2 linked regions of the Homo sapiens genome follow. The protein of the gene in region 1 interacts with the protein of each later gene in a pairwise test. Each region holds a gene or a part of one and is shown on either strand. Other genes may lie near its edges.

What was found.
Region 2: the proteins of CACNB2 (region 1) and TMEM174 interact in binary tests that used the Homo sapiens proteins (3 or more experiments, as listed by UniProt).

The regions. Positions count from the first base shown.
Region 1 is NC_000010.11:18,143,415-18,150,693, reverse strand, and holds part of CACNB2 (voltage-dependent L-type calcium channel subunit beta-2), read right to left. Parts: intron 1-7,279. UniProt on the Homo sapiens protein: Beta subunit of voltage-dependent calcium channels which contributes to the function of the calcium channel by increasing peak calcium current. Plays a role in shifting voltage dependencies of activation and inactivation of the channel.
Region 2 is NC_000005.10:73,167,956-73,175,643, reverse strand, and holds TMEM174 (transmembrane protein 174), read right to left. Parts: upstream 2,452-7,688; 5' UTR 2,401-2,451; coding exon 1,775-2,400; intron 1,585-1,774; coding exon 1,479-1,584; 3' UTR 501-1,478; downstream 1-500. UniProt on the Homo sapiens protein: Regulator of plasma phosphate homeostasis. Decreases serum inorganic phosphate (Pi) uptake by regulating the sodium-phosphate cotransporter SLC34A1 trafficking by PTH and FGF23 in the kidney.

The sequences.
Region 1 (7,279 bases):
GGAGGAGAGTTTTCTTTTCTTTTCTTTTTTGAGACAGAGTTTCGCTCTTGCTGGCCAGGCTGGAGTGCAATGGCACCATCTTGGCTCACCGCAACCTCCGCCTCCCAGGTTCAAGTGATTCTCCTGCCTCAGCCTCCCGCATAGCTGGGATTACAAGCATGTGCCACCACGTCTGGCTAATTTTGTATTTTCAGTAGAGACAGGGTTTCTCCATGTTGGTCAGGGTGGTCTCGAACTCCCAACCTCAGGTGATCCGCCCGCCTTGGCCTCCCAAAGTGTTAGGATTACAGGCATGAGCCGTTGCACCCGGCTGAGGAGGGTTTTCTTGGCAAAGCATTTAATAACTAGTGAATTAAAACAATGGATGTCGTCTTATAAATGTGTTAGCAGGCAAGAGGCAAAAGCCTGTAATGATAAAGCATTTAAAAATAAGCATTTAAAACAGGAAGTTAAAGGTAAGATGATTTGTTTCGATAATAGGATTGGGCCAAGCAGAAACATCTAAAAATGAACTTGCTTTTCCTATTATGTTTACATTCAGAACCCTAAGAATAAACTACACATCAATCTATGTTTAATTCTAAGCATAGATGCAGTAAGGGCAAATATTAAACATTAAAATATAAATGAACAATAGCTTAACAGTTGAGTTTAGAGTTAAATGTAGCACACAGGTTAGAATCCTGGACATAGCAAATCTTCACCAAATTTCTTAACTTTTTCAAGCATCAATCTTTTCATCTTTAAAATGGGGTTAAGTATTAGATGAAATAATACCTCATAGGATTAAGTATGAAACGAAATAATGTATTTATAGCATTTAGCATAAGATCTAACACATGGTAAGGACTCAAAGTAATACATAAAAAGTGATACCTATACAGGGGTTGGAAGATGTGGAAACAAACTGGACTAAAGCGTATAACATGTTGACAATTATTAGGCTCATAGAGACTTCCTTAGATTATCAAAATTTACAACATTTATTTTTAAAATCATCACATTCAGGTTCTCAAAATGCTATTTGGTTATGCTTTCTCTATTCATATGCTTTTCATTAAAATATCTGCCATAATATATGTAGCACTTAGGCAAGCTGAAATCTATTACAAACATTTGCGTTATGAGTAATTTAGACGAATTTGCTATCAGTGAGAGGGTGGTATCATCTTAAAGCAAAAAATTTTCTTATATATGTTTGTTCTATTCAGAGTATCTAAGGGATTTATATAATACAAATGTGTTTCCATGACATTTAATTAACTCTCAACTTCATAAACGGCAAGAAAGCTACGCTGGTCTTTCATAATGTAATATACAAGGTTGTCCTCGGTTAACAGCTCATTCTTTTTACTTGTGTAAACATTATTCAGTAAACTGTTGAAAAATAACATTCTTTTAACCACTTTTTTTCTTTTCCAATTATTATGTAAAGGTTTGGACAGATGCATTTTCTAAGGCCTAAGAAGGCTAAAATAAAGTATGAAAATCTCTTTAAAATTTTCTTTTAAATTTATATTAACCTATGTGCAAAAATACTTATTACCTAGAAAGTATTTTTAAGGCCTGTTTCTTTGGGGGTGTAGCGACAATCTTTGTTAAATTCACCGTTTATCCTCATGAGGAACATGAATTATCTTTGAGAACAAAGACAAAATATAATCTCATCCCATTTTTTTTTTTTTTTTTGAGACAGTGTCTTGTGCTGTCACCCAGGCTGGAGTGCAGTGATATGATCATGGCTCACTGCAGCCTTGACTACACCCCACACCCTCTGGGCTCAAGCAATCCTCCCACCTCAGCCTCCCAAGTAACTGGAACTACAGGCACACATTGCCGTGCTTGGCTAATTTTTGTTTTTTGTAGAGACAGGGTCTCACTATGTTGCCTAGGCTGGTCTTGAACTCATGACTTTAAGCAATTCTCCCGCCCCAGCCTCCCAAAGTGGTGGGACTACAGGAGTGAGCTACCATGTCCAGCCTCCAGTACCGTTTTTAAATGAACAGAAAAGAGTATCTTCGCAATTCTATTGTCCTTTAATTTTAGCATTTTAGTGATAAATATGTCTCATTATCCAACTTCTTGAATGTGTAAGCTTTTTTGTGGTTGCTTACAATTGTACAACAGGCACTGTGAGAGCCACACAATGTTGAAGACATTCAGTCACAGAGGAGGTGGCTGTTCTCTGCAAGAAGTTGAACACATTTAAAAACTCACATTAATTTTTCCAGACCCCTGGGAATCCTGTTCATAAATGTTATTTCAGGCGTACTTAGCTACCTATGCAAAGTATATGTAATGAAATTATTACAGTTTTCAACTGTACTAAGATAGTTTATACACCAAACAACTATAGCACACTGAACTGCATGCATGCTGGTGATAGTTTTGAGAAAAAAAATTGTTCTTCAATTACTTAAGTGTATAAGGGATGATTTATTTAAAGTATTCATTTGCTCATGCCTTAAGAGTGTTAGAGCAAATCCCTATCATATATCATATTAAAAGACAAAATAAATATATATGCTTCATTATATCTCTATTCTGTTATTTTACTAATTTCCACAGGAATTTCTCTTCTAAAGTTTCTTTTTTTTTAAAAAACTGTAGAGTGATTACTTACTGACCAGTTATTTTGTTATTATAATAACAGTCAGGATCAGAAAACAAAAAAACATTTAAAGCATCTTTGGAAAGCTAATAGTCCATTTTCATATACCTTTAAAAATGTTAGTGAAAATTCATCCTGCTATTACAAAATTAAATTTATTTTAATCTAATGTGTATTTAAAATTAAGTCCATCTTGCTCGAAAGATTTGGTTTTCAGTTACTTGAAATCCTTGAAAATAAGGACTAGACTACTTCTTCTGAAGGAATTAAGGGGGGAAAAAAGTGAAGGCCAAACCTCTCCCAAACGGAAAAGACAGGGAAGATTAAGTGTTCAAATATTTAGCTGACTAAATTTGAAAAAAAAAATATATGTAATTGTTTTAGTTAATTTGCTACTTCAAGTGCAGCTACTTTTGTGAACAGTTTTTCTAAATATTTTTTACCAGCATTAAAATATATGAACGCCCAATATCTGAAACAGTTAATCATTAGTGCAGCCCAGGTTGTATAAGGAAAAGGGGAGACAGGAAAGGGGATTTGGCTGTAGTACAAGGTGTTACCTATAGATTCTCCCTGACACATGCAGGTCTCTGTGTCCTTCTTGAAAGAGTCCCAAAAGTCACTAATTTCCACTAATTGCTATTAGCTATATGAAGCTTAAAACAAATTATGTCACCACAGTAAAAAGAAAAAAAAAACTCTTATATTTATATTCCTTTAGTTGTTCCAAAACATCAAGCTAAGATTTCAGAAACTAGGGAAAAAAATTCTTAAGAAATTTCCAAAAATATATTAATGACTTATTAAAAAGACATTCAAAATCCATCATGATGTTAATATCAGCTTAGTGTGAATGAATATCCATCTTCCTTGACACGAAGTAACTTAAGAATGGACTCCAGTCTTAAAAATCAGCAAATAAATGTTGACCTTTTCACAGGTAATGAAAATCTAATTGCTGCATGATTGAAGGAGACAGGAATAATTAATTACAGAAGTTGTCAGTTAACTGGAGATTTTAGCCGTGCACTCAAAGTTGTCTTGGCAGCCCCTGGGGACAACCTGAAGAATGATGTGGCTTCTGTGCTTTTATGGTTATTGTGACACTTCTCCTACCTACAGATTACTTCCCATGAGCAAAATACTGACACTTAAAATTAGGCCGGGCACGGTGGCTCATGCTTGTAATCCCAGCACTTTGAGAAAGCAATGTGGGTGGACCACCTGAGGTCAGGAGTTTGACACTAGCCTGGCCAACATGGCGAAACCCTGTTTCTACTAAAAAATACAAAAGTTAGGCTGGGCACAGTGGCTCACACCTGTCATCCCAGCACTTTGGGAGGTAGAGGCAGAGGGAAACAGATCATTTGAGGTCAGGAGTTCAAGACTAATGTGACCAACATGGTGAAACCCCATCTCTACTAAAAATACAAAAAAATTCGCCAGGCGTGGTGGCGGACACCTGTGATACCAGCTACTCAGGAGGATGAGGCAGGAGAATCGCCTGAACCCAGGAGGTGGAGGTTGCAGTGAGCCGAGATCACGCCACTGCACTCCAGCCTGAGTGACAGAGCGAGATTCTGTCTCGAAAAACAAAAAAAAAAAATTAGCTGGCCGTGGTGGCATGTGCCTGTAGTCCCAGCTACTCAGGAGGCTGAGGCAGGACAATTGCTTCAACATGGAAGGTGGAGGTTACAGTGAGCCAAGATTGCACCACTGCACTCCAACCTGGGCTACCGAGTGAGACACCATCTCAAAAAAAAAAAAAAAAAAAAATTAGTCTCCATCTCTCTCAGTTCGTATTCATTGATGTTTATCCCTTTGAATTTCCAGACTTTCCTCATCTTATGACCTAAAACAAACAAAGCCAAAACTATCCAGAGAGAAATCATGTATCAAATCTCCTCATTTACCAATAGCTTAGTGTGAATAAGCTAAGGGTAAGATCCTTTACTAGGCAAGAAGTAGCTAAATGACATTCCTAGAAAAAAGAGAGAAGTAAGTTGCCTTTTATAATATGGCTCAGTTCACACAAAAGCAGAAAGGAACAAGGAGCCTGCATAAATAGAGTTCTTGGGGATGGGGGTGGGTGTCTAGCAGGTACAGGAGGGAGGAGGGAGGAAGGAGGAGGCCAGGAAGCAGAGATCTATCTGCCCAGTAAGGAGGAGCACAGGCAGGGAGAGCAGAAAGCCAGGAACAACACATGCCTTCTTCACAGTCTACCTCCTGCCAGGCTTGGAAAGATCAGTAAGACAGGCCCGGTTCCTTTAAGTGATGTCATAAGTAGTTTTCTCTGTCTGCAGTTGTGAAATAATGCATTGTTACAATTAGTTTGTAACATAACCATGTTATGTTATGTTTGACCTAGACTACGTGTAGGATAGAGACATGCCACAAAATTGTAGAGTATCACCATCCCCTATGAGGTTAACATATTTTGCTTAGCTTCTCTTGAAAGGGCCAAGGCTATATAATTCAAAGGAATTAAATACAGCAACAGGTAAATTGAGTCTTCACATAAAAAGAGAGAGAAAAATAAAATGAGCATGATATTGTAAGAACAACAAAACCTCAAATCACTCAGATATATTTCAAATTCTAAAACATACTCAGAAATTCTGATTGGCATGTCTGTAAATTTCTCCCATGTCACATTAGAAAAAAAAAAATACCATTCAAGAGGAAAGTGATGGTGGTTAAGAGTGAAGATTTCAGCAAAACATAAAGCACAGGACCTGTAACCACCAACTTTGGAGACTGCAGAAAACTCATTTGCACACGGGACCTAAGAATATTTCAGGAAAACAGTGTTGATGTAGTTGAAGAGCCACTAGAAAACAGCTGCTACTCTTTTTGGATAAAGCTCCTTGCTACAGCCATTCAGGATGTTGCCATCACCAGGCTGTATTACCACAACATGCTTGAAAAGCATCTGGCAGACTCGGCTGGGCTGGGACCAGCTGGGACCTGTTGCTAGGAGCAAAACAAACAGGCCCACTGGTTACTGTCTGTTCAGTTTCAGGTGCGACTGGAGGTGCCACTGACAATCTCTCTGAGGCCTAGAGTGCTGAGATACTGTTCTTGTTACTCCTCCGTTTCCTCTTCTGTTACCTATCAATCCCTGTCACCTGCTTCCCGTTCACCCAACCTTCACGCAGGAGCTATTCAATTCCCTGGAGAATTACCAGTTTCATACTTTAATGTTGCCCAATAGAAATGTCATATGGCCAAATATATCACTGAAATTTTCCAGCAGCCACATTAAAAAGGTAAACAGCAACAGGTGAAATTAATTGTAACAATGCATTTGTTTAACCCAGCATATCCAAAACATGGTCATTGCAACATGTCATCAATTTAAAATTTACTAATGAAGATGTGTTATATTCTTTATTTCATCTTAAGCCTTTGATATCTGGTGTGTATTTCACATTTACAGCACATATCAGTTCAGACCAGCCACATTTCAAGGGCTCAAAAGCCACAGGTGGCTAGCAGCTACCACAATGAACAGACAGATCTGGAGCTTGGAGAAAGGGTCCTCCATGAGCACCTGGACTTTGGAAGTAGACTGTGTCCAGGTTCACGCTGAAACTGTTCAACAGGTTACCTAAAAAGCAATGCAATTTTCTTAAATGGGGACTTTCAAGAATTTGCAGTTAGATTGCCATTCATTTCCCATGTAAGAAACGTATCCATTTTGGGCTGGGCATGGTGGCGCACGCCTGTAATCCCAGCACTTTGGGAGGCCAAGGCGGGCAGATCACCTGAGGTCAGGAGTTTGATACAAGCCTAGCCAACATGGTGAAACCTCGTCTCTACTAAAAATACAAAAAAATTAGCTGAGCATGGTGGCGGGCGCCTGTAGTCCTAGCTACTGAGGAGGCTGAGGCAGGAAAATTGCTTGAAACCAGGAGGTGGAGGTTGCAGTGAGCTGAGATAATGCCACTGCACTCCAGCCTGGGTGACAGGGTGAGACTCCGTTTCAAAACACAAAACAGAACAAAAACAAAAACAAAACAAAACAAAAACCAGGGCTTTGAGAAATGTATCATTTTGTTTATGGCAATGTACTGGGGCAAAGGGACCGGAATGTATCAGGATGCTCCCTCTCTCTAGACAGAATGATTGATACAGAAAAGGAAAATGGCAGAGTTTGCAAATCTACATCTTCTGCTTTCTTCATACAAATATAATACTATAATCCAGAGGTGAGGTAGAATGATTCCTAAAACCAATCATTGCTTTAGAGGTTCCATTTGTAAATAGAAACTCCATTTCTAGGTAGAACTGCCCAATAATTCTGAGTAGAATTACTCGGTGCCACATACAAGGAGGATGCTCTAGAGCCAGCCTCCTTTCTCAGGCAGTTTTTACTGCTGGTCTGTTCTGCCCAAACAGAGAGATGGAAGAGATGGCTTTCCCAAGCCTCACACAATCCTATGATGCCATGATTTATCAGATATAAAATAAACAAGGTAATGTTTCCCTCAAATAATGGGTGTGAGATGAACGCAATTCAAGTCAAATTGCTTTCATTTTTGGAAGGCAGAGAAAGCAAGGAGATGAATGTTGATGCAGTTGAATATTTATATCTCTTAAACTTGCTTTTAAAATCCATTCTGCCCTTTCTCTTCTCTCTCCTTTATCTATGCAATCACTTGCTAA
Region 2 (7,688 bases), on another chromosome or scaffold:
ATCTGCTGGTCAGCATGCCACTGGTGATGCTCAGCCTGGTCCTTGTCACCAAACTTCTTCTCCAAAACCAATGGCCCTCAGCTAGGGACCAGTGTCTCAGGGATCTGCTGAACATAAAGCTAGTTTCTTTAAATGAAATCATTTTCACTTATCACCTATCATCAAACATGACAGTGTATGTGAAAAGGTTTTGTCCCCAAGATATAACATAAATGACAACAATAATATACCAAGCTTACTTCACTCATATCCTTGGAAACCTAGATACTTCTGATCAAAATTAGTAAAAGTTGCTCCATATACAAACGCTATGTCAAAATTTTTTTAAGAATTGCTTAATCCTGTGTCTTCCTTTAGGATGTACCACCCTTACCTTGAGTGGCATTGCCTTTGAAGCCCAAAGCAAATATTTTCTTTTAAAACCTAATGGTTTTAAACTGTCTCTTCTAAAGTCTGTGAGTCAGTTCCAGTTGTTTATTACACAGCCAAATTCAGAGAGATTAAGGACACCAAAGTTTTTTTAATGAAGAAGATGAGTTTCTTTTAGTCATAAAGATTGTTTCTATCATATCATTCCCCATGTGTTGACATGGCAACTCTGCTCTGTCTTGCTCCACAGACCTACGGGTACTTAGGGAAGTCCTGTGTTCTGTCAGCCACTGGTCCCAGCTAGTTCATGCTTGGCGCAGGCCCCAGCCTGGGGTGGACCAAGAGCCCACCCATGTTCATCACACGTCAAGCTTCAACCTTGCAGAAGAGAACAGCAGCAGCCAAGGGTCACTGTGACTCAGTGATCGGGAAGGATGTATTCACAGCGCTATCCTATTATGGTCTATTTTGTGTAATTTAGTCAGGTATCCAATACTATTCTAGCAGGAGACATGATTTATTTTATTTCATTGGTTTGATGTTTTTGTTTTGTTTTGTTTTATAGTCTTTAAGGTACCCAGAGTCCTCAGAGAGGCCAGATGGCAGCTGAGTTGTTTGGGATTAGTGAGTCTGCTTTGGGGCCAAGGACAGCCACCAGGAAATCTCCAGCTGGGCCTGCTTTCTCTTCCCTGCTTCCTTCCCACCCGACTCTCACCTCTGTGGAAACTCCCAAAGTCTCAGAAGTCGTGATTTTTCCATTGGCTGCTGGGGTTAAAATTGAGCCACCAATGCCTTCCTACAGAGAAGGGGGAGGGTGGTGGATGAAAAAGTGAAATTCCTGCTCCTGAACCTTATACAGGAGATTTCTTACCCGAGGGAATTTGAAACTGTTCCGGAGGAGAATTTCCCCAGCCCAGCCTAATTTTTACCAATCTGAGAAATTGCACCTCCCACTTCCCCTTTCCCCCCTTGAATGATCTCTGTCAGGCTGCCTGGGCGCTGCTGTAACTTCTGAAGGTTACAACATAGAACACCACGGTTGTCAGGTAACAATGACGGAAACACTTGCTCCCTGAGCTGAGCATTGTGTTATTATATCAGAATAGCCTCTAGCGAGGGAGAGAGTATATTTCTTCATAAGGGGGAGGAGAGAAGCAGGCACAGGCCTCCTCTTCCAGCTGTGTCTCTTCTAGCTGGTCAACATCAGGATTGGGCCTGAAATGTGAGCAGAAAACACAGGTACATTATGGTCCAAAGCACCATTCACAGAACCAAGGCTGCCATCGTGGGCAACAGGCTAAGAAGAGATTCACAGTCTCCCAACACCTTATTCATGGACCAAACAGCCACAGATCATGACGGAGATGGCTAGAAGGAGTGCATTCCCCCAGTAGACACGCCATACCTGTGATTTCCACCGTCCGTGAAAGAAAGGCAGCCCTCATCAACCACAAATGCAGAGTTATCTTGAGGGTAGATGGTGTAGTATTGAGGAGGACTTGACATGGCGGCTGCTGCCCCTCCAGAGGTTATGAGGCCGCAGGGGCTCACCACAGACTGCAGGTAGCTGGTATTTATCCCCATAGGCTCTGGAGAACCATAAGGAGGAGGGATGTACTGCACCACAGTGGCCCCATGGAAGGTGATGGGTTGGTTGATGCCAGTGAAAACAAATGATGGTCCTCCTGGTGTCTGTTCCGAGTCCGGGACCCTTTCCTCACTTTCTTTGCACAACTGGCAGGAGAGCATTTTGAACTTGCACACAGCAATCAGGATGAATGTCACCCCAACTGACAGCAGGACGGGCCCAAGGAGCTGGGTCCATTCAAAGTGGGAGACACCTTGGTATTTGATCCAGCCCATGACAGTGAATGTGATCCCCACCAGTCCCAGAAAGATGCCTGAGAAGAGCAAGGTGGCCCCCGCCTTGTCATCATCGGACACCTGGATGTCAGCGGTGCTGGGTGTGTAAGGAGTGACGGAGAACACATTGACAGGGAAGTCCTCCAAGCGGCCGCTGCCCTGCTCCATTGCTCCTTGTGGGCTCACCCTGCTTCTTAGAGTGGAGAGGATTGTGAGAACCAAGGAATCACAGGTCCAAATTAGTTATAGAAGAACTTAGGGCTTGTGCTTAACAGGGTGTAACACACAGAGGGCTGGACCTTGTTTAGAAGAATAAAGGTCTGAGAAATGAAGCCTGAAGTTTTCTCATGTATTGTCAACAAGTGGAGGTCTCTGTTTTGCAAGTCAATGACAAGCTGTCTCTCTAATTCACATTCATTCATTCACACATTCAAAAATTAACTTATTGAGCCCATCTTTCTCTTTCTTTTTCTTTTCTTTTCTTTTTTTTGTTTTGTTTTGTTTTTTTAGGGTGTGGGTCTCACTCTGTCACCCAGCTGGAATGCAGTGGCACAATGATAGCTCACTGCAGCCTCAACCTCCTGGGTCAAGCGATCCTCCCACCTCATCCTCTCCAGTAGCCAGGACTACAGGCACACATCACAATGCTCAGCCAATTTTTAAAATTTTTTGTAGAGATAGGGTCTCATTATGTTGACCAGGCTGGTCTCAAAACTCCTGGACTCAAGTGCTCCTCCTGCCTTGGCCCCAGGAGGTACTCTTCTATAGCAATTTAAGACGCTGCCATAAGACCCTGTTTTTGTCCTACCCAACTTTGTAGAAATGGCAGAGCTCCCTCAAGGGTCTCCAGCAGTGAATGGGGCCCTTGATATATCCACACATGCACAGGAGTCTAACCTGATTTACCTAGTGGTTCAGTTCATTAGGAATAGACAGACACCTATTTCTTGACTGCGTGTGTATTCCTATCTACTTCAAGAACCCCTAGCTGTGATGATACTTAAACTTTAATAACAGTTCTCACAAAGCCCTGAGATCCTGTTCTTTTCTGGCCAGCCCCACATGCCTTTTGCTTTCTGCGTTTGGGGAGTAATTCCAGCTTTGGGAGAGGAACAACGTCATAGGAAACCTTTTTATGCACTGCATCACTGCCAGTGGTTGAATAAGCATCAGATATGACCTGGCTCACTAGGACACATGCTTCGGACCCTCCCTCCATGGTGGCCACACAGTTCCTGGTCTTCAAGGTGAAACAACCAGCTGTGTTTTGGAACCTACTATGTTTTACAACCAAACCCAAGTTGATGTAGAGAAGACAGTTTAATTTTCAATAACATTATCTGTCATTCATGACTGCAAAACTTCCAAACAGCCCCATGAGTTTCTTCCTCCACTGATTAATAACTGTAGCCTTCTTTCCTTCCTAGACAGATTTTATTCAAGCCGATGCTCTCTGCAGTAATTAAATATTATATTAGCTCCTTTTGCAGAATTGAGAGGGCTGCCGTCTTGCCCTAAGGCAGGGCTTCCTAAACTTCCCTTGACAAAGAAATCACATGGGCCACTTTTTTAAAGGACAAAATGTGAGCTCCCATTTCAGACCAACAGAACCAAATATCCAAGGGAAGGACCTCAGGTGATTCATCATCAAGAAATCTTAGGAAACCCAACCCCAGGTTAACCTTAAATGCTTCTAGGAGACCAAAGGACATTTTTCCCCATGAAAATGCCTCTCCCTGCTACAGGACAAGGCTTGTAATCTCCTACTTCACTGCCAAACAGATGGAAAAGCAAGCAGGTGACCCCTGAGGTATCTTCCTGGATGTGCCTTGGAGCAGCAAGGCTGGAGTGGAGTTGCTATAGGAACAGGCTGCCCTTTTTCCCACTGAGCTAGATCAGAGATCCAGGAAAGCCAGATTTTCTCTTTAACTATAAATTTCTGGTAAGTTAGCCTGCCATTATTTTCAGGTTCTTAACTCCTAAGTTAACAGTCAAAACAATCCCTGACATTTAGAAAAAAGCTAGGATCTCAAAACTGTCTTCTAAATCACTCAATTTATGTTTTCCATTTGCCTTTAGCTATATCCACTAAGAATAACTGGGAAGCCTGAGAGAGTAGAGGAAACAGATCACCCTCCTTTAGACAGCTCATGAATGCAAACTGGAACTGCTTTCAGAGCAGAAAGATCAGAAAGTTCTCCAATTACATTTTCAAGGTCCGTTTGACTCAGCTGCTTCTTCCAAAAGCCCCACCTCTGTCTAGATGGTAAATAGCAATTTTTTTTTAAAGCTAACCAACTGAATTCAATAGCATATTCAAAGGACTATATGCCATGACCAAGTGGAAGGCAAGGCTGGTTCAACGTACAAAAATCAATCTATGTGATGCAGTATATTCACAGAATGAAGGGGAAAAAACAACACACGATCATCTCAATTGATGAGTGAAGGGGAAACATTTATTGAATACTTACTATGTACCAGGTGTAATTCTATACATTTAATATAGGTGACATAATTTCATTCTTTTAACAACCAGGTTACAGTCAAGAAAACTATGCTGATTATTAAGCTATGGTGACTCAGCTCCAAACCCACCTTTCTAAACTTCTCTTTGTCTCAGACTCTCAAAGCACACTTTTCCTTTCCCAGGCTGCTCCAGTTAGGCTTTGCCAATAGGGGGTGCTACAGGGAGACTTCAAGGTGGGAGAAAGGAGAAGGCACTTAGCAGTTTCTATTTTGCTTGCTGTTACTGTCAGTGTCACTCCAACAACAGTTCTTCTTCCTGGCAGTAACAGTTCCAGTTTCCAGAACCCTCCTCCTGCCCTCCAATCAGCCTCACTGTGCCCCTTCAGGGAAACCAACACCAGCCACTGTTCTTTGTCCAAGCTCCTGAGATGCCAGCATTAGCTGAAGGACGTTTTCTACTCAGAGAGCTGCATCCCAGCTCCACAAGGGCCCTTATCCAAGCTTCTGATTTCTAATATAAGCCCAACCTCTTCCTTTTGTTCCCCCAGCCTGCTTTCACTAAGTCTAAGTGTTCTTAGTGTTTATTTTTTGCCTTTTCAATCCTCCAGTATCTGTTAAACTAATTTCCTATACCAAATTCTCTCTATTAAAATAACTGGTATAGTTTCTGTTTCCCTAAGTGATTCTGACTGATATGTCGTATTCACAGTGGGGTTAGGAAACATACCTGTGAAGATGGGATTCTGGAATTGATTTGGTCATATTCTTGGCCTCAAATACAATGCTGAGTCCTCATCAATGAAACATGGGATATTAGTAGATCATGGCATGAAGTGGCATCAAAACTAATAAAAATAGCACCTGTAGTAGGTTGTGAAAAATTGCCTATTGGAGCAAATGCCTTGGGGACCAACTGGCTGCTACACTTAATCACTATGACAATAATGATGAACTGCAAGTTCTGTGGGATGGAGATGGCCACTTCAGAATGCCCTGCAATACTTATAAAAGGAAAAGTAACAAGCTCAGGTCTTTAAATTCAGCTCAAGTCACAGTCAGAGAACCAGAGAGTTTCTGTGGTGGTCCTAAAAGAAACTTGTATCCTATATTTACAGGGCTGACATCACCAAAAGTCAACAAAATTTAAATAGATATCTTTCTATATAGCTATACATCTGTGGAGGCTACAGCCACTCCCTCTTAGATGCTAACCCACCGTGTTCACTGCTGTCTAACTCGTTCCAGGAATGCCTTTAAAATGCCTGTTTTGGAAGGGGAACATCACACACCAGGGCCTGTTTTGGGGTGGGGGGAGGGGGGAGGGATAGCATTTGGAGATATACCTAATGTTAAATGACGAGTTACTGGGTGCAGCACACCAACATGGCACATGTATACATATGTAACTAACCTGCACGTTGTGCACATGTACCCTAACACTTAAAGTATAGTAAAAAAAAAAGTCTGTTTTATCTACTGTTCCTTGCATGAGAGCATGTACTTACTGTAAGCCCTGCCCTTAGATCAAAACAACTTTAATGTTATAGTACTTACCATAAATCCTGACCTTAAGCAATTGTTCTACACATCCCTTCTGAAGCATACATACCCTTTCCCTGAGGTATGTAAGCTCTGGGTCTGGTGAGTAATGGTATAGGATCCACCATCTTGTCTCATGGCTTCCAGGAGCATGGCCTCTGTTCTTAAGTCCCTATTATATGTTCCTTTCTGAGAAACTGGATTTGTCAGCCTCTTTCCTCAGCCTCTTAGCTTCCATGGCCTTTGAGGATAGGTTTGCATAAACCTGCTTACCATGGAACAGTATCTATATCTACATGCGATTGGTTCAGTTTCTCTGGAGAACCCTAATAGACAATGATACTTAAAGTATCTATGGTAAGTAGTGATGCTGTACAGAGTAATCATAGATAAAACCACAGCGCAGGCCTCCAGGGTTTTAGAGAAAATCCATGCTGCTTCTGCAGGCAGCTATTCTTCTTTTGAGACACAGCTCATGATTCTTTACTGGGCCCTGGCTACTGGGCCCTGCATCACCCTAGGACACTGAATGACCCCTGAGCTGCCAATCATGACCTGAGCATATCTGACCCACACAACTGTAAGTTTGAGCATGCACAGCAGTGATTCATTATCAAGTAAAAATGGTATTTAAGAACTTGGACATGAGCAGGTCTAGAATTACAAGTAACTACATAAACAGGCGGTTCAGAGCCTTACACTTACTCTTACTGTGTGGCATCTTCTCCTACAATCCAAACCTATGGCCTAGTAGGGAGCTCTTCCCAGCTAGATGACTGAGGAGAAAAAATCTTAGGTCTTGTGTATACGTTATTCTGCACAACAGTGGACTGCTGAAGCATTATGACACCCATCAGGAGTGTCCCTGAAAGATGCTAGAAATAGGGTAGAATGGAAATCCTAGCGAGCAGAACTTCAAGCAGGACATTTGGTTGTCCATGTTGTCTGAGCTGAGAGATGGCCAATAATACAATCGATGTTGGTTCATAGGCAGAGGTGAGTGGTGTCCTAGGTTTCAAGGACTCAGAAAGAACAAGATTGGAATGTGAGTAACAGGAAGTATGGTGAACAAGTATAAGGATATCTCAAAGTGGGCACAGAGTGTAAAGATAGTTGTGTTCCCTGTGAACACTCACCCAAGGGCATCCACTGCAAAGGAGGCTCTACCAGTCAGGTGAACAAGCTGGTGTATTCTGTGGATATCAGTCAGTCTTTTCCCCCAGACATCAGTGTTTCCTTGATAAGCCCATGTACACAGGATGCAGGCTACCATGATGAAAGCATGAAGGCGATGCATGAGCTTAAAACTAGTAGCTAATCTGGCTACCATCACTGTTGAGTACCTAACCTACCAAAAGCAGAGACCAATGCTGAGTCCTCAGTGTGGCACTATTCCCTGAAGATCACAGCCAAATATCTGATGGCAGCTGGATCATGGTGGACTCCTT